Homo sapiens: one gene and its partners. The protein of the gene in region 7 purifies or fractionates together with the protein of the main gene of each other region. This does not show direct contact. Each region holds a gene or a part of one and is shown on either strand. Other genes may lie near its edges.

The links.
Region 1: the proteins of SERPINB5 (region 7) and PLS1 purify together in Homo sapiens (affinity purification with mass spectrometry; 3 studies listed by BioGRID and IntAct, with this or other methods). This does not show direct contact.
Region 2: the proteins of SERPINB5 (region 7) and HMGCS1 purify together in Homo sapiens (affinity purification with mass spectrometry; 3 studies listed by BioGRID and IntAct, with this or other methods). This does not show direct contact.
Region 3: the proteins of SERPINB5 (region 7) and EIF2A purify together in Homo sapiens (affinity purification with mass spectrometry; 3 studies listed by BioGRID and IntAct, with this or other methods). This does not show direct contact.
Region 4: the proteins of SERPINB5 (region 7) and NAA50 purify together in Homo sapiens (affinity purification with mass spectrometry; 3 studies listed by BioGRID and IntAct, with this or other methods). This does not show direct contact.
Region 5: the proteins of SERPINB5 (region 7) and UBA6 purify together in Homo sapiens (affinity purification with mass spectrometry, with the first as the bait; one large-scale study listed by BioGRID). This does not show direct contact.
Region 6: the proteins of SERPINB5 (region 7) and ALDH2 purify together in Homo sapiens (affinity purification with mass spectrometry; 3 studies listed by BioGRID and IntAct, with this or other methods). This does not show direct contact.

Annotation. Positions count from the first base shown.
Region 1 is NC_000003.12:142,669,393-142,672,892, forward strand, and holds part of PLS1 (plastin-1), read left to right. Parts: coding exon 1-161; intron 162-1,600; coding exon 1,601-1,730; intron 1,731-3,500. UniProt on the Homo sapiens protein: Actin-bundling protein. In the inner ear, it is required for stereocilia formation. Mediates liquid packing of actin filaments that is necessary for stereocilia to grow to their proper dimensions.
Region 2 is NC_000005.10:43,289,413-43,292,912, forward strand, and holds part of HMGCS1 (hydroxymethylglutaryl-CoA synthase, cytoplasmic), read right to left. Parts: coding exon 3,436-3,500; intron 3,226-3,435; coding exon 3,062-3,225; intron 1,809-3,061; coding exon 1,719-1,808; 3' UTR 1-1,718. UniProt on the Homo sapiens protein: Catalyzes the condensation of acetyl-CoA with acetoacetyl-CoA to form HMG-CoA, which is converted by HMG-CoA reductase (HMGCR) into mevalonate, a precursor for cholesterol synthesis.
Region 3 is NC_000003.12:150,567,287-150,570,786, forward strand, and holds part of EIF2A (eukaryotic translation initiation factor 2A), read left to right. Parts: intron 1-406; coding exon 407-480; intron 481-615; coding exon 616-760; intron 761-889; coding exon 890-1,006; intron 1,007-3,500. UniProt on the Homo sapiens protein: Functions in the early steps of protein synthesis of a small number of specific mRNAs. Acts by directing the binding of methionyl-tRNAi to 40S ribosomal subunits.
Region 4 is NC_000003.12:113,722,250-113,725,749, reverse strand, and holds part of NAA50 (N-alpha-acetyltransferase 50), read left to right. Parts: intron 1-1,654; coding exon 1,655-1,791; intron 1,792-2,208; coding exon 2,209-2,328; intron 2,329-2,777; coding exon 2,778-2,844; intron 2,845-3,500. UniProt on the Homo sapiens protein: N-alpha-acetyltransferase that acetylates the N-terminus of proteins that retain their initiating methionine. Has a broad substrate specificity: able to acetylate the initiator methionine of most peptides, except for those with a proline in second position.
Region 5 is NC_000004.12:67,694,656-67,698,155, reverse strand, and holds part of UBA6 (ubiquitin-like modifier-activating enzyme 6), read left to right. Parts: intron 1-1,448; coding exon 1,449-1,511; intron 1,512-3,500. UniProt on the Homo sapiens protein: Activates ubiquitin by first adenylating its C-terminal glycine residue with ATP, and thereafter linking this residue to the side chain of a cysteine residue in E1, yielding a ubiquitin-E1 thioester and free AMP.
Region 6 is NC_000012.12:111,773,433-111,776,932, forward strand, and holds part of ALDH2 (aldehyde dehydrogenase, mitochondrial isoform 1 precursor), read left to right. Parts: intron 1-3,500. UniProt on the Homo sapiens protein: Required for clearance of cellular formaldehyde, a cytotoxic and carcinogenic metabolite that induces DNA damage.
Region 7 is NC_000018.10:63,503,272-63,505,585, forward strand, and holds the end of SERPINB5 (serpin B5), read left to right. Parts: intron 1-58; coding exon 59-451; 3' UTR 452-1,814; downstream 1,815-2,314. UniProt on the Homo sapiens protein: Tumor suppressor. It blocks the growth, invasion, and metastatic properties of mammary tumors.

The DNA of each region.
Region 1 (3,500 bases), on a different chromosome or scaffold from region 7:
TTGACAATAGTGGGTATGTCAGTGACTATGAACTTCAAGACCTGTTTAAGGAAGCAAGCCTTCCTCTGCCTGGCTACAAGGTGCGCGAGATTGTGGAGAAAATTCTATCAGTTGCTGACAGCAACAAAGATGGCAAAATCAGTTTTGAAGAGTTTGTGTCAGTAAGTAATCTAATCCTTTCGGGCTACTGATAATCTTGCTTAGAGCAGAATTGTAGTAATGTCATCACTAGCTTTGGTTAAATCCAGCTTCAGAGACCAGAAAAAGGACTGCTTTAAAATGATGATGATGATGATGACAATAACTATTATTATCGAAATAATTTCCACAACTAATTCATAAAACAAAGGAAAAAATTATTCTCAAATTGTTGGAATGGAAATCAGGTTTAGATAATAGTAATTCATTCCCTAGAATAACTAGGTGAGTTCAATGCTTATTGACCATTAATATAATTGAATAAATATTTATGAAATATAAATTGTCTGGTTTTGCATTCTTTATTGATTAAGCAGGTATTTTAGCTCTTCTCTTCCTAGAAATTTTGCTAGGCACTGTGAGTAATGTGATGAGTAAAAAGAAACGTGATTCCTGTCTTCATGGAGTTTATATGTGTGGAGAAGACTGCATTGCACAAATTGATAAAAGATAATTGGAGAATTGCTATGACAGAGTGGTACAGGTCCTGTGAGAGTTTGTGGTAGAAGGAATTGAATTTGGAGGCAAGGCTGGATAACCCAGGGACTCAGGGAAGGTATCCCTACAGTGTGAAGACTGTGATGTGTTCTGAAGAAAGATGTTAAACAGATAAAAGTGGGTTGTGGGAAAATGAATAATGTAGGAGGCAGGTAGACATGACAGCATGTGTAGAGTCCCTGTGGCTTTAGAGATGGTGAATATTCTCAAGCAACTGAAAGAAGGTTTGTGTGACTGGAGCTGAGATGGTAAGGGTAAGGAATGTAGCTGGAGAAGTAACTCAGAATCAGGTCACACAGGGCCATGTCGAATTTTTGTTTTTATCCTAAAAGCAATAGGAAGACAATGAAGTGGGAAGAATAGAATGTGAAGTGACAAGATCAGATTTGCATTTAAAAAAAAACCCAATCACTTTGCTGCAAGCAGAACTGATTGAATTGAGTCTTGCCAATCTCTGGTGAGTCCAGTGAGAGAGTGATTGGGAAAGGGAGTTTCTGTAAGCCTATGTTATTTCCTCTAAGAGCTGACTTATTTTATCATGAATGCATTTGAGATGTTCAGGCAGGAAAATATCTTCATTAAGGCATTCTTCTATCTTTAGCATGTAGTTAGTTATTTCTTAGGTTTTCAGTACAAAAGATTATGGCAAGCCAAGAAGAATAATTTCAGTGTGTTCAATTTAAGCTTAGTTATAAAAAATTTATTCCACCGTTTGGGGTTCAAGTATTTGTCTATTTTGTGTTATTGGTAAAATGATGAAAGTTATCTGTGTATACAAGCAATAAGTACAACTGACTAGTATTTAATTTGGTGTCATTTCAAATAAAGAAGTGTAAATAAATATCCATTTTGTCAGGTTTTTATTGATTATCTGATTCTCAATTTTACTTATGTTCCATTCCAGCTAATGCAAGAATTAAAAAGCAAAGATATCAGCAAAACATTCCGAAAAATAATTAACAAGAGGGAAGGGATTACTGCTATTGGAGGAACTTCAACTATTTCCAGTGAGGGCACACAGCATTCTTATTCAGGTAACTGACTTCTCCAAATTTGATCTTTTAGTCACTGATTCATTGATTAAGTGACATATTTAATCAGTTCTAAGATGCCACTCATTGTGATTCATACCGTTATTTTATGTGCCACTGAGGAGAAAAAAATACTGCAGACCACAGTATAACATGCCATTGAATTTGAAATACATCTCAGTTTCACAGATGTCAAAATGAAAAATCCTAGAATCATTGAAATCAATGAGTTCCTGCTGTGTATCAGGCTCAGTCTACAGAAACAAGATTATAAACAACAAAGTGGAAGTTGTTTATACTCCAGCATTAGATGTATTTAAAAGTGGCTTTTCAATGGCTTTTCATCCTGACTGATGAGGTGGCTTTACTTTTAGACCTGAGCTAGGAATGGGGGAGAGGCTTCTATCACAAGGATTTTTCTCTTCCATTTTCTGAGATCTGAGATACCCGATTCACCTTTTATCTAGTAACCAAGTGACTAGAGAGCATAGCACCTGATTTGCTTGATCTGATTAAACCACTGGACCATTGCCCAGTGGGAAATGCAGAAGCATATCAACTTTTAAGATGAGGTGTCTTCCCCGTGTTAAGTTATCTAAGATGTCTAAGAACCTTTGGCCAAGTTCTTTTTATTTATATGAACATAACTAGAACTATGCTTTTTGGCCTTTTGACAAAATTACCTGTAACCTTTTCCCCTCTTTCTTCATTTCAGATCTGAATCTGTTAATTATCCTCTTGATTCTGTCCCTTCCTAATTGGATTTTCCTCTAGCGATACACTCAAATTTCTCTCATCTATTATATGTTTTTCCTAACTTTTTCCCACTAGGGAAGCAGCCATAAAGGCAAAGGTCCATAACTGTTACCTTCACTTTTTGAAAGGTATTCACCCCTTAACCCAGTTTCTGCCTGTCAATTCTACTGAAGTGGCTTCTTTTTAAAGACAAAAAAAAATTATTAAGGTATAATACACATTCAGCAAAGTGCTATAATCTTAAGTATATGGCTCAATGAATTTTTCCATGTGTATATACATTCATGTAGCTGCCAACCAGAACAAGACATGGAATCTTTTCATCACCTGAAGACTCCCTCATTCCCCTGATAGTAACTATTCTTCCCTAGAGGTAACCTCTTTTCTGATATTTGTCACCATAAATTTTTGTTTACTTATTTTTTGAGGTATAAGATACTTGTAGTAAAGTGCATGAAGTGTACTTTTTTTTTTTTTTTTTTTTTGAGATGGCGTCTCGCTCTGTCGTCCAGGCTGGAGTGCAGTGGTGCGATCTCGGCTCACTGCAAGCTCCACTTCCCAGGTTCACGTCATTCTCTTGCCTCAGCCTCCTGAGTAGCTGGGACTACAGGTGCCCGCCAACACGCCCAGCTAATGTTTTTGTATTTTTAGTAGAGTCAGGGTTTCACCGTGTTAGCCAGGATGGTCTCGATCTCCTGACCTCATGATCCACCCGCCTTGGCCTCCCAAAGTGCTGGGATTACAGGCATGAGCCACCACACCAGGCTGAAGTGTACTATTCTTAAGTATATGGCTTGATGATTTCTTTTAACCTATGAATACACCTATATAACTATTCTCTAGAAAAATATATGGAATATTTAATGGCTTTTATAAAAAATAGCAGCTTTATTGAGATATAATTGACATACCATGGAATACATTTTTAAAGTATACAGTTCAGTAGTTTTTAGTGTATTCATAGTTGTGCAATTGTCATCACTATTTAATTTCAGAACACTTTCATTACACCAAAGA
Region 2 (3,500 bases), on a different chromosome or scaffold from region 7:
CTTTATTTCAAAGTTATTCACCTCACCGTTAATAAGGTGTATGATTAATGCTCTGTGCCAGTATTTGCAGGCCTGCCCATTGCCGGCAATGGACTTTGAGAAAACCCATTTCCTGGCACCCAAAAGTTAAATTACTCTTTTCAAAACATACCGATCTCCCCAACACTTGCAAAAGTATTACATGCACCATTTTGCCACCATTCTTTAAATCAGAACTTACATTATTAATCTACATCAGTGAATGTTAAATGAAGTCATTTTAACAAATTATGACTGTACAAATCAAAATACTACTAGTTAATATTAGACAAGAGTATCTTACAAACACTACTATTACATATTACCTTGCAATCTGAAACATTATATTTCATATTTGTGTATATTTATTTTAGATAACTGAAACTTCACAGAATTTAACAGCAAATAAAGTTTAAAAAATTTAGTTCTGTACATTAGTTCCAACTATCCCTATTTTACAATCTATAAGGCTCATGTCATAGTTCAGCACCAAAAAGATCTACACAAAACTGTTTAACCAATCTTCTTATCTATCCTGTGTGATAGTTTTGTTTGTTGTTGTTTTTTAAGGTAAAAGTCCTACTTCAGACCTTGAAGTGGAATACTTCTAGTCAGACTAGGTAAAAACTTGGGTCATACCTTATTTTCATTGAACAGATACCAAAAAAAAAAAAAAAAGGAAAAGGAAAAGAGCTGTGTTACACCATGAATTTAGGTTGTCAGCCTCTATGTTGAATTTATAACACTGAAGCATCAGAAATAGCCTAATAATGCCCTGCCCCTATTCTTCCCTTCCATTTTAAATTTTTAAAAAAGTAACCAGAAAAATGTTTCATTTATTCTTTAAAATAAGGTGCAAAGAAGGACTGCAACAACAAACTCCCTCATCCACACCTCCAATAACATCTCACTGTTGTTCAGCATAATCTACCATGAACTGATTCAGGAGCACACCTAGAGCTATATTCACAGCTCCTGAATGTACCATGTTTTCTATACCAGAAGCCTCTTCAATGGCAGTGTTTCTCTGTTCAGAGGTCATTACAATAACTTTTGTCACTGCTGGCCTGGACTTAACATTCCAGATTCCAGAGCCAGTGTTTTATTGTCCCAGCTCTTTTCTTCCTCTTTAGGATTTATCAATTTTAGAAAAAGGGCATGTTTGTTTTGCTATTTTCAAAGGGTTTGTGCGTATCACATTTTACCACATTTTACCCCAATTTTACCACACTGGGGAATGTTGTCACATTCCCCAAGCTAGAAATGTTTTCCAAAAACCACAGGTACTTTCTGTAATCTTGTTGTTCAAAGTACAAAATTCTTACATGTTAAAAAATTTTTTAATTGGAGATTAGTACCTCTGCTTTCTTCTGACAGAAGTACACAATTCATTATACCATGTTTAAAAACCAAACATCATGCATACAAATGGCCAAAGAGGTATGAAGTTTTACAGAGCCCTTAACATCATTCGAGTACATTTGGCATTGGCCAGACCACAACAGGAAGCATGTCAGCAAATAGAGCAAAGAGACTTTCCCAAGTACACGATAGTCATCCAGGCTCCATGTCAGTCACATAAAAATTTACATAACATGTAATCCTTTAAAATTATCCCCAGATATCCCATTCCTCCAACTGTTCCCATACCCCCACCCCATGCCCACCCCACCCTGAAGTCTTGCACCTCACAGAGTATCTTAATGTTCCCCATTACTAATGACAGCTGCTTCAGGTTCTGCTGCTGTGGCAGGGAGTCTTGGTACTTTCTTGGCAGGGCTTGGAATATGCTAAAATGAAAGGAAAAAAGTTGATGGCTCTTATGATTCTTTCCCCCACAAGAATCATGGCACCAATTAAAGTTTCTGTAAAGAAACTTAATAAAGGACAACTCTGGAGAAGTTTATGCTAAATATATATTTTATATAACTTTTCATGAAGGGAACTCAATATCCATTTTTCACCTTATGGTGAATTTAGTATACAATTATCCATATGGGGGGGAGAGGAAGCCTGCCACAGAGACCCACCACGTAACAGTATTTTACTTGTTACGTCTTGTATTTGCAACTCAAACAGTGGCGGTTTGACTTGCTACCTAATTTGTATAATAGCAAAAAGCAAGACTATCCATTTACCAAACTTGTAGTAAGCAGATAAATAAGTAGTTTCAAGGTTATAAAGTCCTTAGTTTATAACCTGGCTTTAATACTTACTACCTATAATCCTGGGCAAGTAATGTAACTTCTTGGAGGCTCATCTCTAAAGGGAGGACAGTATCATTTATAAACTTCAAGGAGGTTGTTGTAAGGATTAAATAAGAAAACGTAAGTAAAGTGCCTAGCAGGTAACAGGAATTCAAATCATAGCTATGATTGTTACTTCTTGACAATTTGAGGACAGATTTTGACCATGATCTGGGATGAGATGTGAAAGGATCCTTGTCCCTCTACTCCATCTCTCACAAAGACACACACCACAAATGAACCTTCTCTCTATATCAGTCTTCCTTTAAATCCTGGTATCATTAATAAAACCTAGTATTTACTGTATATTCTTTTTTTTTTTTTTTTTTTTTTTTGAGATGGAATCTTGCTCTGTCGCCAGGCTGGAGTGCAGTGGTGTGATCTCAGCTTACTGCAACCTCTGACTCCCTGGTTCAAGCCATTCTCCTGACTCAGCCTCCTGAGTAGCTGGAATTACAGGCACGTGCCACCAAGCCCAACTAATTTTTGTATTTTTAGTAGAGACAGGGTTTCACCATGTTGGACAGGATGGTCTTGATCTCCTGACCTCGTGATCTGCCTGCCTCAGTCTCCCAAAGTGCTGGGATTACAGGCGTGAGCCACCGCACCCGGCCTTTACTGTATATTCTTAAAATATTAATAATTCAAATGCAAAGCACTTTATACAATTGGAAATAGTACAGCTAGAATCTACTCCCAGAGCCCTTACTCTTCTTTACTGACATTTATTTATGTTGCTAAATCCCAGTTAGGTCTCCTAAACCCTAAGATATGGAGATGGGAACTCTTTTATTTACCTCAGTTGCTATGTTTGAATGCACAAGTCCTACTCCTTCATCCAAAGTGTCATCATTTGGAGTGGGACGCCGAGCGTAAGTTCTTCTGTGCTTTTCATCCACCCTAACTAAGTACCACGTTCCTTCAAAGAGTGAATCTATTGAACCCTGGGGAATATAGTTGACTAAAGGAAAGGGAGAGAATATCTACAATTAGTTATGATATACAATTCATCTGGTAATAAAGCTAAAGATAAGTTTCATATATCCCAATAATTTTCACTGACATCAGATTAGTACTGAGTAAAGTCTTGATATCCTTATCGTATATGTAGCATCCTTAATGATATCAGCCCTCCAAATGGGTTAACTTAAAGAACATTTAATATTTTTACCCAAATGATGGGTGTCCTCTCTGAGCTTCATGTTTTCAGCGAAGACATCTGGTGCCACACCAGTT
Region 3 (3,500 bases), on a different chromosome or scaffold from region 7:
CCATATCCACATTCTGCAGTAGCAGGCCAAGGTTGATCTTTTCCTTCTAATAGGCTCTAAGACCACTTTATTTCAGCGATTGAAGAGAGGATAACTGACATTTATCAAATACCTACCATGTGCCTGGCACTCTTCTCTTAAAACCAATTACTGAGAGTTGGGTGGTATAATCCCATTACTTGCCTAAGCTCACACTGCAAGTAAATGACTGAGTAGAAATTGAAGCCTACATTTGTCTTGCTCCTACCCCATGCTTTTTCCACTGTGTTACTGTATCTCACCAGGAGGAGACTACAGTGAGTAGTATTGGTGTGTAGTTATAGTGATCTTTGATAATGTATTCAGAGTTTAACATGTTCCTTTTAGGTTCTCTCATCAATCTGATTTAATTTACTCTTTTTTTTAGACACAATTGCAAATAAATTGCATTTGCAAAAAATTAATGATTTTGTATTATCACCTGGACCCCAACCATACAAGGTAATTGCTGTTTTTGTTTATGTGTAATATTATGTGTTTAAACCTTTTCCTAGTTTTTTGTGATTGTAAAAACATGTCCATCTCAGTTTTTATTCTTCAAAAAATTAAGTAATGATTTATGTCTATGTATCTTAGGTGGCTGTCTATGTTCCAGGAAGTAAAGGTGCACCTTCATTTGTTAGATTATATCAGTACCCCAACTTTGCTGGACCTCATGCAGCTTTAGCTAATAAAAGTTTCTTTAAGGCAGATAAAGTTACAATGCTGTGGAATAAAAAAGGTATGTTAAGTATATTTTATCCCTCCCTTTGTTTATCAGTTGTTAATTTAGGCTATATTCCTATGTGTATAACAGAAGAATCAATGCCCATTTGTGTTTTAAATCTAATTAAAGTTTTTACTGTTATAGCTACTGCTGTGTTGGTAATAGCTAGCACAGATGTTGACAAGACAGGAGCTTCCTACTATGGAGAACAAACTCTACACTACATTGCAACAAATGGAGAAAGTGCTGTAGTGCAATTACGTGAGTATTCCAGCAGTCTTCCTTTGATTAGAAACAATGATAGTAAAAAATACTATGCCATAAAGATGATATAATCTAAATTCTTGATCAAAAGATAGAATTCATATGCCTTAATAACCTTTAAGATAAAATTTTTCTTAATTAAGAAACTTAAAAATCATCCTCCAACATACCTTATTTTGGCAGAATACAATTAGTTATTTGAGTTACGCCATCGTTTTAGAAGTGAACTTCCTGAGTAAGGTAATTCCATTGTAGTAGCTCTTTTGGAACTTACTTAGCTAATTATGACGGCAAATTGCTTAATACTGTCTTTAGAATTGTTAGTAATATGCAAGAGGCCAGGCATGGTGGCTCGTGCCAGTAATTCCAACACATTTTGGGAGTCTGAGATGGGAGGATCATTTGAACTCAGGAGTTCAAGACCAGCCTGATCAACATAGTGAGACCCTACCTCTACAAAAAATAGAAAAAGTTAGCCAGGCATGGTGGCGTATGCCTGTAGTCCCAGCTCCTCAGGAGACTGAGGCAGGAGGATCACTTGAGCCCAGAAGTTCAAGGCTGCAGTGAGCTATGATCATGTCACTGTACTTCAGCCTGGGTGAAAGAGCGAGACCCTGTCTCAAAATAATAATATCCAAGAATGTTACCACTTCATCTGTTGTTTTAATGAACTAAAACTTTAAAATAATAGTTTTAAAATACTGATAGCGTCCTAATTTTCTCATTTTGAATTGAACATGTGTAAGTAGGGTAATCTATGTTTTAAAAAAACTATTTCCATTGAAGTCAGAGAAAAAACAAGGATGGCTCCCCTTTTCACTTTATTTTAATAACATTCTGAAATACCTAGTCACTATAATCAGCAGAAGTAAAATATATACAGTTTTGAAAGAAAACAAAATCATCTCTGCTCATGTAGATGAAGTCACACTATAACAGCTACTTTAAAAAAATGAAAGATTCCATATATAGCAAAAATAATAAGAACAAATATATAGGGCCAATGAGAAGAAAACTTTAAAACTCTTCAGAGAGACAAACTATGACCTTTACTAAGAAGAATTATTTTTATAAAGATGTCATTTCTCTCTTGTCAGTCTAAAACTAAATTTAAATGCTAACTGATTTTTTTTTTTTAACTAAATAAACTGGCTGTAAGGTTGGTGTTGAAAAATGAACACACAAGAATATTTTGGAAACTTGTGTAAAAGAAGAGCAGGGCAGGGGAAGTTATCTGGAGTTCTGACACTACCAGATATTAAAATGTACCCAGCACTTTGGGAGGTTGAGGCGGGCAGATCATGAGGTCAGGAGATCAAGACCATCCTGGCTAACATGGTGAAACCCCATCTTTACTAAAAATACAAAAATTAGTTGGGTGTGGTGGTACATGCCTGTAATCCTAGCTACTCGGGAGGCTGAGGCATGAGAATTGCTTGAACCCAGGAGTGGGAGGTTGCAATGAGCCAAGATCGTGCCACCGCACTCCAGCCCGCTGACAGGGTGAGACTCTGTCACAAAAAAAAAAAAAGTAAGCCAATTGTAATTAAGACAGTTTGGTTGTGGTATATGGATATACTGGTAAAACTGATAAATCAGTGGAAGAGAACAGAGTCCAGAAGTAGATCCATACTTTTGTAGACATTAATATATAATAAAGTCAGCATTTGAATCAATGGAGGAGAAAATATTGATCATTTAATATGTGGTTTGGGATAACTGGCTAGCCATTCGAAACAAAAGGTTATTATCTTCTTCACAAAATAAATTCTGGTTGGGTCAAAAACTTATACATAAGACTGCAGAGGAATTAGAAGAATATATGGGAGAATTTTTTTTCTAATCTTAAGAGTAGAAAAAGACTTTTTAAACAAGATAGAAGTACTAAGGGGAAAAAATAATGAATTTGACTAGAGAAGAATAATGGATTATTACAATGAGAGAAGAAAAGAGTCCATAAATTAAGCAAAATGAACAAAAAGTTGGGGAAAATATGTTTTTTAAATAGTCAAGTGATAAGTATGAGGAAGGTCAAATTTTCTTAATATATCAAGTAAGCCAAGTAAAAGACCAATAATTGGAGAAAAATAAAATAGGCATAGGATAGTAAAAATTAGTCCTCAGAGCCGGTGCAGTGGCTCATGCATATAATCCCAACTATCTAGGAGGCTGAGGTGGGAGGATTGTATGAGCCGAGAAATTTGAGGCTGCAGCAAGCTAAGATCCTACGGCTGTACTGCAGTCTTGGTGACAAAATGAGACCATCTCTTTAAAAAAAAAAAGAAGAAGAAAAAAAATCAGCCCATAGAAAAAGAAATAAAATTACTTACAGTAAAAGATGCTTAACTTATAATTTAAAAAATACAAATGAAAACAAGATAGACATTTTCACTTAGTAGGCTGATGAAGATAAAAATATGAAACTACACAGTATAGTTGAAGGATAGTGAGGGGGAAGCCTGCATCATCAAAAACTGCTGACAGAGGCTGG
Region 4 (3,500 bases), on a different chromosome or scaffold from region 7:
GTCACCCAGGCTGGAATGCAATGGTACACAATCATAGCTTACTGCAGCCTCGACCTTCCAGGCTCAAGCAGTCCTCTCACTTCAGCCTTCTAAGTAGCTGGGACCATAGGTGCACGCCACCACACCTGGTTAAGTTTTTTTAAAAAAATTTCTTACAAAGTTTTGCTATATGCCCAGGTTGGTCTTGAACTCCAGGGCTCAAAGGATCCTCTCACCCCGGTCTCCCAAAGTGCTGGGATTACAGGCCTTCATGCCCAGCTGTTTTTTTTTGTTTCTGTTTTTGTTTTTTTGCATTTTAATCTAAATTTTAACATTTCAAAATACAGTTTTTAAAATTACAATTTCTACTACAAATTAAAATCCTTTCAAGCATGTTTTTGTATATGTTAACAAAAGTCCGTTGTTAAATATAGTTGAAATGTGCTTTTTCTCTACAAAACACAATATGCTACAACATCTTTTTGGGCAAATAATACGGATGGAGCAAAAAAATTGTAGAATGCTGTCAGGTTTGCCTTATCACATTTGATCCACCTTTAACAGTATTGAAGTTCACTTCAGCTATTAAAAATTCTTTGTTTACAGCTCTGCAGGCAGAATACCTTTGATACTTTGTTAGAAATTGGAACTGAAAATTTTTCGCTTTAATCTTTTCCATGGACCCAATTGTTTTGATTACAAGTGGTTTCTTAGGAATGCTCCTTTTATTAGTCCTTTCTCATGCTGCTAATAAAGACATACCCGAGACTGGGTAATTTATAAAGGAAAGAGGTTTAATTGACTCACAGTTGCGCAGGGATAGGGAGGTCTCAGGAAACCTATAAACATGGTGGAAGGGGAAGCAAACACATCATTCTTCACATGGTGGCAGGAAGGAGAAATGAGAGCGAAGTGAAGGAAAGCCTCCTTATAAAACCATCAGATCTTGTGAGAACTCACTATCACGAGAACAGCATGAGGGCAACCGCCCCCATGATTCGCCGGGTCCCTCTCACAACATGGGAATTATGGGAACTACAAGATGAAATTTGGATGGGGACACAGCCAAACCATATCACTCCTGTTGCTTTCTTAATGGATAGTTTTCATCCTGGGGTGATTTTCAAGATGGTGGATTCCTTTGTTTCGTTTCCAGCAACTCTGGTTCTGAAAATGGGGTATGTGTATCCAGGAATGTGAATTTTGCATATCACCTCTGTGACTCTGATGTAGGTAGTTCATAGACCACGGTTTTCATGAATAGAATGTGCATGGTATTGCATACCTCCATTGTTTTCTTAGAATAAATTACTAGAAGTAATAAGATACTTGGGCAAAGGAACTGTAATTTTACCAGAAATAGGTGTATCTAAATTTTTCTGAACTATGAACTACAAGGAAAATTTTGACACTTGCAGAATGTTATTCTGGCCTTTGTAGTAGTCGTTGTGTACCATATTTGTCCCTGAATGTATGTAATTATATGAAAGCTATGAGTAGAATTTGTATTGAATGACTGTCAAAATTTGCTTATAAATGATAATTTGCTTATAAATCAACTCTGAAAGAGTTGGATTTATCAATCATGTAAAAAAGACTTGGTACCCCTTTCATATGTTCATATTAACAAATGGGGCTAATTATGTTTTATTGAGTACATTTTGATTTGTTCCAGTAGCCGGATCGAGCTGGGAGATGTGACACCACACAATATTAAACAGTTGAAAAGATTGAATCAGGTCATCTTTCCAGTCAGCTACAATGACAAGTTCTACAAGGATGTGCTGGAGGTTGGCGAGCTAGCAAAACTTGGTATAATATAGTTTTTTTTTTGTCCTCCCTTCTTTTCTTTCTTTTTGTTCTTGAACCCTAGTTTTTTATAGAGCAGAAGAAGTTAACTAATTTAGTTTGTTTATTTTATAAGTGAGGAAATGGGAGTGGTCTAGGTTGTGAGAAAAATCTCAGAGAAATCAGTTGAATAAAACAGTTGAATTTTAAAAAGAAATGCTTAGTGTTCTTAGTGTATACCTGTGTGTTTTCACTTTAAGCTATACTCTAGAGGAGGCTTAAACTTCCTAAGATGGCATAAGAGCTTTGAGATCATTGATATTCATGAAATAGTTGATGAAATTTAATGTTGATAGGAACAGTGTAGTCCTTTAAAAGGGAAAAAGATTAAATGTGTTATTCTGTCTGTTCAACATTATATCTTTATGTTTTCCTTGGCAGCCTATTTCAATGATATTGCTGTAGGTGCAGTATGCTGTAGGGTGGATCATTCACAGAATCAGAAGAGACTTTACATCATGACACTAGGATGTCTGGCACCTTACCGAAGGCTAGGAATAGGTAAAAAATTGTGGTTTTTTTACTTCTTCAGAGAAGCATAAACATATTATTTGTTAATGTGTCTGACCTAGTAAGTTAATTTGGGTCTTTTTAAGGAATACTGAGAAAGGGTTACTGAATTATGTAAAATATGGTGAAAAATAACTAGTGTTTATTAACATAATTCTATTGGAAGCCCTACATAGATTTGCTGTTTACGTCCCCTTCTGCTTTTTCTGTTTTTCTTCTACCCGGAAGTGCTTGTTTAAAAAGGTTAGTCTTCTGCTAACAGTTTTAAACATACGTAGCTATTGTAGAGAGAGAACACAACTTTGGAAAATAAGGATATCTAGTGTATACCTCATAAATTCTTTTAGGACTCAATAAGTAGTTCAGATGGCAAGTGGATAGATACATAATTTAAAGGTTGATTTATGAAGTCACGTGTTTGTTATTTATTTTATTAACAGGAACTAAAATGTTAAATCATGTCTTAAACATCTGTGAAAAAGATGGTACTTTTGACAACATTTATCTGTAAGTAAAATAATATTTAATGTTCTTATCAAAGGGGTTTAATTGGCAGGAGAAATCTTTACTAGAAACTTTAAAATCTGGTCACTTATTGTGCCTTTGGAAACACTGTGGAAGTAGTTGTTACAAAGTATTCGAGTAGTTGTTAGTTTTGTTTAGTTTTGTTTTATTAATAATAGTAGATTAGGAACCTGAGATAGAACACATTGCTTTATTATATTAGGATGAGAGCACCAAAGTCACAGGGATGAAATCAGGATTAAAACTCAGGCCTTCAGAATTCAAGACTATTAATACTACTTTTCTCATGCAAAACCTTGTGTGTTTTGTTCAAGGCTATGTTGATAGCTTTGAACATTGTAGTAGATCATTTGTAGTAGAGTTTAATAATCAAAATCAGAGATTACCTAGCTGAGATTGTACTTGAATCTCAAGAGGCTGTAGATAAAGAGTTATGACTAAGATCACAGTCATGGATGTTCATAATTTAGTTTGGCCATGTGAGAGATTGAATTATACAGTGTTATTTTGGGAGTAATTGAGAAAGCTTGCGTTTTTAATTTTTAAAACATACCATGTATTTTATCAATCAGAAGGAAGATATATCTTCAAGCTTTGAGACCCTAGTTTTTTATTTTTCATCATTTTTTTTCTGTGTG
Region 5 (3,500 bases), on a different chromosome or scaffold from region 7:
ACAAGAAGTCAGCTATTCCGAGATTTTAAGAAAGAACATTCTAAGCAGAAGAAATAGGTAAAAACTCTGAAATGAGAGCAAGCTTGCCTTCTTGCGAAACAGCAAACAAGTCAGTGTGGCTTGAAGATAGTAAGCGAAAACGGAGACTGGTGGGAGTTGAAATTGGAGAGATAATTGGGAGACAGGACACATTGGCCCTCTCAAGCATAGTGAGGTGTTTGAATTTTGTTTTAAGAGTAAAGGAAATCCACTGAAGGGTAGTCCAAATTCAGGGAATAATTTCTGACTGCATTTTAAGATATTTAGACTGTTTTATGGAGAATAAAGGGGAAGGGCAATACTGGAAATAAGGAGACTAGCTAGGTCTTTGAAATAGCCCAGGTGAAATGTGATGATGGTTTGGCTTGAGATTGTACTGATTGAAATAGTAAGAAATGATCAGGTTTGAGATATCTTATGAAGGTAGAGCTAACAGGTCTCAGATGGAGAAAACTGGGGAATGATTTAAGCAAGAAGATCCCTAGATTTCAGGCCCAACCCAGTAAATGATGGTAGCGGAAAATGAGTTAGGAAAGACAGGAAGAATAGATTAAGCAGGGGTAATTGAATTCTCTTTGGAGTTTGTTATGTTTGTGATACCAGTTAAGACATCAGAATAGTTATTGTTTTGGCAGTTGTATACAATCTGGAGGTCAGAGGAAAGATCACACGTGGAGAAATAAGTTTCAATATAATCAATATATATTCATCAATAGGATTGAATGAGTTTATCTGGGAAGACTGTATATATAGAGAAAGTTCATGGTACAGAATTGCTGAAATACAGATCCATTAGAATATATGTACCAAACAGGCGGGCACAGTGGCCCACGCCTGTAATCCTAGCACTTTGGGACGCTGAGGCGGGTGGATCTCTTGAGGTCAGTAGTTCAAGACCAGCCTGGCCAACATGGTAAAACCCCATCTCTACTAAAATTACAAAATTAATTGGATGTGGTGGTGTGCACTTGTAGTCCCAGCCACTTGGGAGGCTGAGGCATGAAAATCGTCTGAAACCAGGAGGTGGACGTTGCAGTAAGCCAAGATCGTGCCTCTGCACTCCAGTCTCGGTAACAGAGTGAGACTCCCATCTCAAAAAAGAAAACAAACAAACAAACAACAACAACAACAAAATATATATATATGTATTTATGTACCAGTGATAAAACAACACCTGAGATCTGAGAATAAAAGATGATGAGCTCTGTAATCTTAAAATTTACACAGGATAGAACAAGCAATCCGATAATTTAATTTCAGGCCATTTAAAAAATATAAGTAAAGTGGTTGTTAATAAAATATATGTTTGGTTTGTGAAAACCTTTAGTAACTGGTGAATCTGATCACACAAGTAATCAAATATTACATTATAAAATGTGAATATTTAATAACCATGTTTTTTTTTCCAGCACAAATAAAAATTTGCCCATTATGTCAACAGCATCTGTGGAAATCGATGATGCATTGTATAGGTAAGAATCTCATAGAAACTGAAACTTATTTTCCCCATTAATTGTTCTCAAATAATCAAGTAGTCTCTTTGAAGATACCATTCAGCCTATGCAGAATTATATGTGTGTGTGTGTGTGTGTGTGTGTATGTATATATGTATGTGTGTATATATATGTGTGTGTATATATGTGTATATATGTATATGTATATATATGTGTATATGTGTATATATATGTGTGTATATATGTATATGTGTGTGTATATATACACACATATATATAAAGAGTTCCTCTCAAGTTAAAATTAGGGTTTCTGTGATTTTTTTTATCTACATTCGGATAATATTTAAATCTCAGTTGTTTTAGGTTTAGGTGATAGGACTAAGAAGGATTTTGCTGCCCTTGCAAAATAACCCTTTCATTTTTGGACAATAATACGTATTTAAGTTCTTGATAGTGCAGGAGTTGATGAAGAATAATATTTCACTTTAGTCATACAATAACATCTAGAGAATATTACTTCATTGTAATCTCATTAAAATATTTCCTGTTCTGTAATTTATAGACAGTGGAGAAATACTGTGTGATTGAAGAGTTGTAATTTGAATGGAATTTGATGGGACTTTTAAAACTATGCTTTTTCAGGAAATTGGAATACTTTTTTAGTAATTAAAGTATTGTATGATTGAATAGTTGTGATTTGAATGAAATTTGATGAGACTTTTTAAACTATACTTTTTCATGAAATTTGAATACTTTTTAAAGTAAAGAAAAAGATGCAGAGTCAATAATGGGCACTTTATTAGGAGCTAATACATACCATCTGGCATGTTGAGTCCAAATCCTGTTTTGTACTCTATGCTTGGGAAAAGAGATAGAAGACTAACAATCTTGCTCATGTGAAAATTATTTTAAAGATGATTTCTTGATTATAAAATATGGTTTAGAAGTCACCTTAAGTTGTTGTATAAGGGTTAACTGAATTAGTACATTTAAAGCACTTAAAACAGTGTGTAGCACAGGGTTATCTATTATTATTAAATGCCTGGTACTGTTTTAGGTATTTGGATTACAGTAGTGAGTTTTTAAGACCATACATTTTTTTGATAGGAGTGGCAGACAAACAGTTAATGGTAAGTGATTTGAAGAAACTATGACAGGTTAATGAGTTAGGCAGTGACCTAAGGATAAGAGTAGCCATTTTATTGATAGGGTGATCAGAAATGATGTGTGTGATATTTGTAATACAATATTTTAATAGAGGCTTAAGTGATAAGAAGTCAACTATTTCAAGATTTTTAAGAAAGAACATTCTAAGCAGAAGAAATAGTGTAAAATCTCTGAAATGAGAGCAAGCTTGCCTTCTTGCAAAACAGCAAGCAGGTCAGTGTGGCTTGAAGATAATAAGCAAAAAGGGAGAGTGGGACTCTTACGTTGGGATTCTTAATCTATAATTATATTCTTAATGTCCTTTTGGTCATGTTTTTCTTGGTTTAACAAATGGCACCTCTTTGAGATAGTATTGACTAATTTTATTCATTTTTTAGTTTAATCCTTGTGAAACTTTTTTAATGTCCCTCCAACCCTATAATGCTGATAAACATAATTTTCAGTAGGCCAGTGACTAAACTTTCCATTTACAATGCTACGTAAGTAGGCTGCAGTTTGCTTTACTGAGAGTTATAGAATATAGCAGTTTAGCTGTTATTATTAGAGGTAAGCCATTTTCTTTTGTTTGACGGAGAGTATCTTTTGGTGTAGCTGTTAGCACTTGGTATGCGTGTCTTATTGCAAACATCTAGTTGTTTACCAATGTGCATATTTGAGTTTTAATATCTTCCTTAAGAATTTGTCATAGTGAGGGCAGGAAGCCAGAAATTTATGTGGGTACTAAAAGAGTGAATTATTAGGGAATACTAAAAGAGTTACTGACTACATATAGGTTTTCTTAGTAGAAATACAAAGATGTGGCCAGGCACAGTGGCTCATGCCTGTAATCCCAGCACTTTG
Region 6 (3,500 bases), on a different chromosome or scaffold from region 7:
GCTCCAGTAATCATGATTATTCATCACCTATTTTCCATCAGGCCCTCTACTGAGGACTTCTACCTGCATTTCACCTTTCATCCTACCCGCAACTCTATAAGCCTGGTAGTATTGCTGTCCCGTCTTGCGGGTGAGGAAACTGAGGCTCAGGGAGGTCAAGTTCACATTAAGTATAACTAAGGGCATGTGTGTGAAGGTTGGGCAGGGCAGAATTTGAAGCCCACTTTCAAACTTATAACTTAATGTGAACTTGACCTCCCTGAATAATGATCAGACCATAAGAATGTATTAATAAACATTTAAGGGACAATTGAATAGAATTTTAAAATCAGAGAGGAGGAGCCATGTTTGTATTGTTCACTTTTGCATTCCTGGCACCTAGCACCTTAGCATAGGATCACTGTTGGGTAAATATTTATTGAATAATGAATGGTTGCCATTTACGAAACCATGTTTACAGTTTTGTGCTCCAGAAGTGAGGTAAAGGGTTGCTTAATGAGAACCCAGTATTTCTACTCAAAAGGACCTTATTGCAAAGTATTTGGAAGTTTAAAAGAGTGGGAACATGGGGACGCATAGGGAGTGGTGAAACTGGCTCAGGGAAAGTCCATTGCAGCAAGATAGAGGTTGCCAAACCGTAAGCAGAACAAGTTGAAACCGCGCCTGTCTGGCAAACAGTCCAAAGTGGAATTGAAACTCCCATCTTTGAAGTGGTGAAAAAAGGCCCTGGGGTGGGGGAGTGGGGCAGAGGGCTGGCGTCTGTCTGCCTGGGTTAGTCTTGGTTCGGGAGTGTCCCGAGCAAGCCTGGGGAGATGACTGCCCCTCGCCTTGATCCCCAACTAACCTGGGGTTCTGGATTATGTGTGGGGAAGAGGGAATGTGTGTGGCATTCCGTGTTTGTCTTGAACTTTACTCCCTGGAATCTTGTAATACAAGCAATGGCATCTGCTTTCCATCGGACATAATCACCTAACCGCAGATTAGCAAGTGAAAGAGCACATGCCGTTGGGATCATCCCAGGCTGCAAAACCGCGCCATTAGCTTGCTCACTCTTTGGGAAAATACGGTGTTCCAGGGACGGGGATTTCCTAGGTAACATGTCCAGTTCTCTCATGCATCAAAGCTTGAACTGAAATCTTTCTAGAATGTATCCTGCCTCCTTAAATCAGAACTACTGAACACAGTTTAGCCTTTCATTGGAGACCCTGGGCAGATGATTACTGAACACAGTTTAGCCTTTCATTGGAGACCCTGGGCAGATGATAACCACCCATTGTCATGAGGTCTGGGGGTGGTGGCCAGAATTTCATTCTCTCCTGGCCTTGGTCTGACCTCCGCCCCCAAGGTCCAGTTGTCCTGCTCTGGGCACTGACCCTGCCCCAGCTCCTGAGCCCCTCGACCACCACAATCACCACTAAGTCTCTGCCTGGCATGGAGAACAAGATAGCCAAGGTGAAGAGGGATCCTGTTACCCTCTAACTCAGTAGTTCTAATTTCTACACAGTAATCTGCCCCATGTTTGGAAAAACGCATGTGAAAGGGTTCGCCACAGCTGTTGCTGGAATGGCGATCACTTGTCCTAAAAGTGCATTTGTAGGAAATCGTTAAATAAACCATGGCCTGACCGTGTTGAGGAACGCTATGTGGCTTAACATGAGGCAGAGCTGCCTGTGGAATAACGTCCAAGAGAAACTGAGAAAAGCGAGTTAGCAAACAGCAAGTCTATTACCCCCACTTAGAAAGGACACGGCAGTGTCCCGGTTCTCTGGTCTCCTGGGTCCTCCCAGCATCAAGTGCAGATCCTGGCACACAGCAGGTAGAATCGCGAGCCCCCCGCTCTCCCCTCACCTACACCCTGCAGCCACTCCTCCTGTCCCCAGGCTCTTCCTAGCAGTCACCCTTCAGACCCCTCAGCTGGCCAAGCCTCCTCCTGCTTCTCACTTGCTTGGTTTTGCTTGTTTCCTGCGCCCTCTCCTCACCAGGACTTCAGCTCCCACAAGCCAGGACTTGGCTCTTGGACTCCCTGTGCTGGAGTGGCCAGGGCTGTCAGTGAAAGCTTATGGAATGCGTGGGTGAATGAATCCAATTTTTACAAAACAAAGTGAGATGTATTTATTAAAATATGTAGGAATTAGAGTATTTTGATAGAAAATCTTTATGTTTTGCCTACAGTCTAGATTGAAAATGTCAACTCCAGACATCACTGTGCTTCTGGAAACTATAAAGAGGAAGTGGGAGCTAGGACATCCCCCCACCACGCCCCGCCCAAGAGCGTTTACGTGTGTTATGTAAGTCGAGCTTCGGGTTTCTGGTCAGGAGGTTATAAAGCATTTGGCCCAGAGTCTGGCCTGGTGTTTATTCAGGAAAACTGCTCCTCACTTGAAGCAGAACTTTGGCAGAAACTCAGTGTGAGAACAGTTCCTACCCAGCCCCCCACCGGGGAGGGAAGCCACTGAGTCTGGCTCTGGGAGAAGGGAAATGGGAAATGTAAACCGGAGGAGGTTTCCAGCGTCCTACAGCAGACCCAGGTTTATCTTATCAGTGGAGAAGGGAGGATGGGTTGTTGAAAATGCAGCCTGGTTCAACAGTGAAGGGTGATTGAGAACATTCTGGGCTTTGAAAGGCAAACATGCCAGGGAGTGGTCTTTCCAGGATCCTAATCTAAATCAGAGGGGCCAGCCCAGCGAGGAAGGGGTGGGGCTGGTGGGGTTTTAGCCAGACTGGCCCACCTCTCCCCTTCCTACTTCCTGATCTTTGCAAAATAAAGTTTAAAATCCAGGACAATTTAGTATGCTTTGGTGCAGGGAACAACATAAAGAGTATAGACCTGGCCCTCGCTCCTAAGAATCTTTAAGCTACGAGAGAGCTGCAGGATCTAGAACACTGCAGGACCCCCTGCGGGCAAGGTCCTAGCTTAGGAACTGTACACTCGTTCTTGCATTTAACCTTCACATCAGCCCCCAGAAGTACTCGATGAGGCATCTGGGAAGTGAAGGGATTTGCCCAGGGTCAAATCTGTGAGGGATGGAGTCAGAATTCAAACCCAGGCCGGGCATGGTGGCGCACAGCTGTAATCCCAGCACTTTAGGAGTCCAAGGCAGGAGGATCACTTGAGCACAGGAGTTTGGGACCAGCCTGGCCAACATGGTGAAAGCCCATCTCTACAAAAAATACAAAAAAAATCCCACCTTTATTTAAGAAAAAAAATTCAAACCCAGATCTGTTTGGCTTTGAGGTTGGTGCTTTTTACAACATTCAGAATAAAATTTTTTTTTTTTTTGAGACTCTGTTGCCCAGGCTGGAGTACAGTGGTGCAATCTTGGTTCACTGCAACCTCCATCTCCTAGGTTCAAGCAATTCTCCTGCCTCAGCCTGTCGAGTAGCTGGGATTACAGGCAAGTGACACCATGCCCAGCTAATTTTTGCATTTTTAGTAGAGACAGGGTTTCACCATGTTGTCCAGGCTGGTCTCGAACTCCTGACCTCAAATGATCCACCTG
Region 7 (2,314 bases):
CAGGTCTTTTACAGTTGGAAATAAATAAAAATAATTTCTTTTCATTTTTGTCCTTCAGATTGAAAAACAACTCAACTCAGAGTCACTGTCACAGTGGACTAATCCCAGCACCATGGCCAATGCCAAGGTCAAACTCTCCATTCCAAAATTTAAGGTGGAAAAGATGATTGATCCCAAGGCTTGTCTGGAAAATCTAGGGCTGAAACATATCTTCAGTGAAGACACATCTGATTTCTCTGGAATGTCAGAGACCAAGGGAGTGGCCCTATCAAATGTTATCCACAAAGTGTGCTTAGAAATAACTGAAGATGGTGGGGATTCCATAGAGGTGCCAGGAGCACGGATCCTGCAGCACAAGGATGAATTGAATGCTGACCATCCCTTTATTTACATCATCAGGCACAACAAAACTCGAAACATTATTTTCTTTGGCAAATTCTGTTCTCCTTAAGTGGCATAGCCCATGTTAAGTCCTCCCTGACTTTTCTGTGGATGCCGATTTCTGTAAACTCTGCATCCAGAGATTCATTTTCTAGATACAATAAATTGCTAATGTTGCTGGATCAGGAAGCCGCCAGTACTTGTCATATGTAGCCTTCACACAGATAGACCTTTTTTTTTTTTCCAATTCTATCTTTTGTTTCCTTTTTTCCCATAAGACAATGACATACGCTTTTAATGAAAAGGAATCACGTTAGAGGAAAAATATTTATTCATTATTTGTCAAATTGTCCGGGGTAGTTGGCAGAAATACAGTCTTCCACAAAGAAAATTCCTATAAGGAAGATTTGGAAGCTCTTCTTCCCAGCACTATGCTTTCCTTCTTTGGGATAGAGAATGTTCCAGACATTCTCGCTTCCCTGAAAGACTGAAGAAAGTGTAGTGCATGGGACCCACGAAACTGCCCTGGCTCCAGTGAAACTTGGGCACATGCTCAGGCTACTATAGGTCCAGAAGTCCTTATGTTAAGCCCTGGCAGGCAGGTGTTTATTAAAATTCTGAATTTTGGGGATTTTCAAAAGATAATATTTTACATACACTGTATGTTATAGAACTTCATGGATCAGATCTGGGGCAGCACCCTATAAATCAACACCTTAATATGCTGCAACAAAATGTAGAATATTCAGACAAAATGGATACATAAAGACTAAGTAGCCCATAAGGGGTCAAAATTTGCTGCCAAATGCGTATGCCACCAACTTACAAAAACACTTCGTTCGCAGAGCTTTTCAGATTGTGGAATGTTGGATAAGGAATTATAGACCTCTAGTAGCTGAAATGCAAGACCCCAAGAGGAAGTTCAGATCTTAATATAAATTCACTTTCATTTTTGATAGCTGTCCCATCTGGTCATTTGGTTGGCACTAGACTGGTGGCAGGGGCTTCTAGCTGACTTGCACAGGGATTCTCACAATAGCCGATATCAGAATTTGTGTTGAAGGAACTTGTCTCTTCATCTAATATGATAGCGGGAAAAGGAGAGGAAACTACTGCCTTTAGAAAATATAAGTAAAGTGATTAAAGTGCTCACGTTACCTTGACACATAGTTTTTCAGTCTATGGGTTTAGTTACTTTAGATGGCAAGCATGTAACTTATATTAATAGTAATTTGTAAAGTTGGTTGGATAAGCTATCCGTGTTGCAGGTTCATGGATTACTTCTCTATAAAAAATATGTATTTACCAAAAATTTTGTGACATTCCTTCTCCCATCTCTTCCTTGACCTGCATTGTAAATAGGTTCTTCTTGTTCTGAGATTCAATATTGAATTTTTCCTATGCTATTGACAATAAAATATTATTGAACTACATGTCTTGTTTTTTTTTTCCTATTAAGTTAGACTATTTTGAAATAGAACCAAGCCGTGCGTTTACAAAAGCATCCCTGAAGCAGGCAGATCACAAGGTCAAGAGATTGAGACCATCCTGGCCAACATAGTGAAACCCCGTCTCTACTAAAAATACAAAAATTAGCTGGGCGTGGTGGCGCCCACCTGTAGACCCAGCTACTCAGGAGGCTGAGGCAGGAGAATCGCTTGAACCTGGGAGGCGGAGGTTGCAGTGAGCCAAGATCAGGCCACTGCACTCTAGCCTGGCGACAGAGCAAAACTCCGTCTCAAAAAAAAAAAACAAAACAAAAACTCAAAACATAAAAACAACAAAAACAAAACAAAACAAAAAGAACAAACCCCAAAAAACCCCAAAGCATCCCTGTAGGTAAAATGCTCTTTTGAAGATTGAGGCAGACTAAAAAGAAATAAGAATAATTACTTCCTCTTTTCCCTTGTTTTCCTTTCTTCCTAGCCCTCAG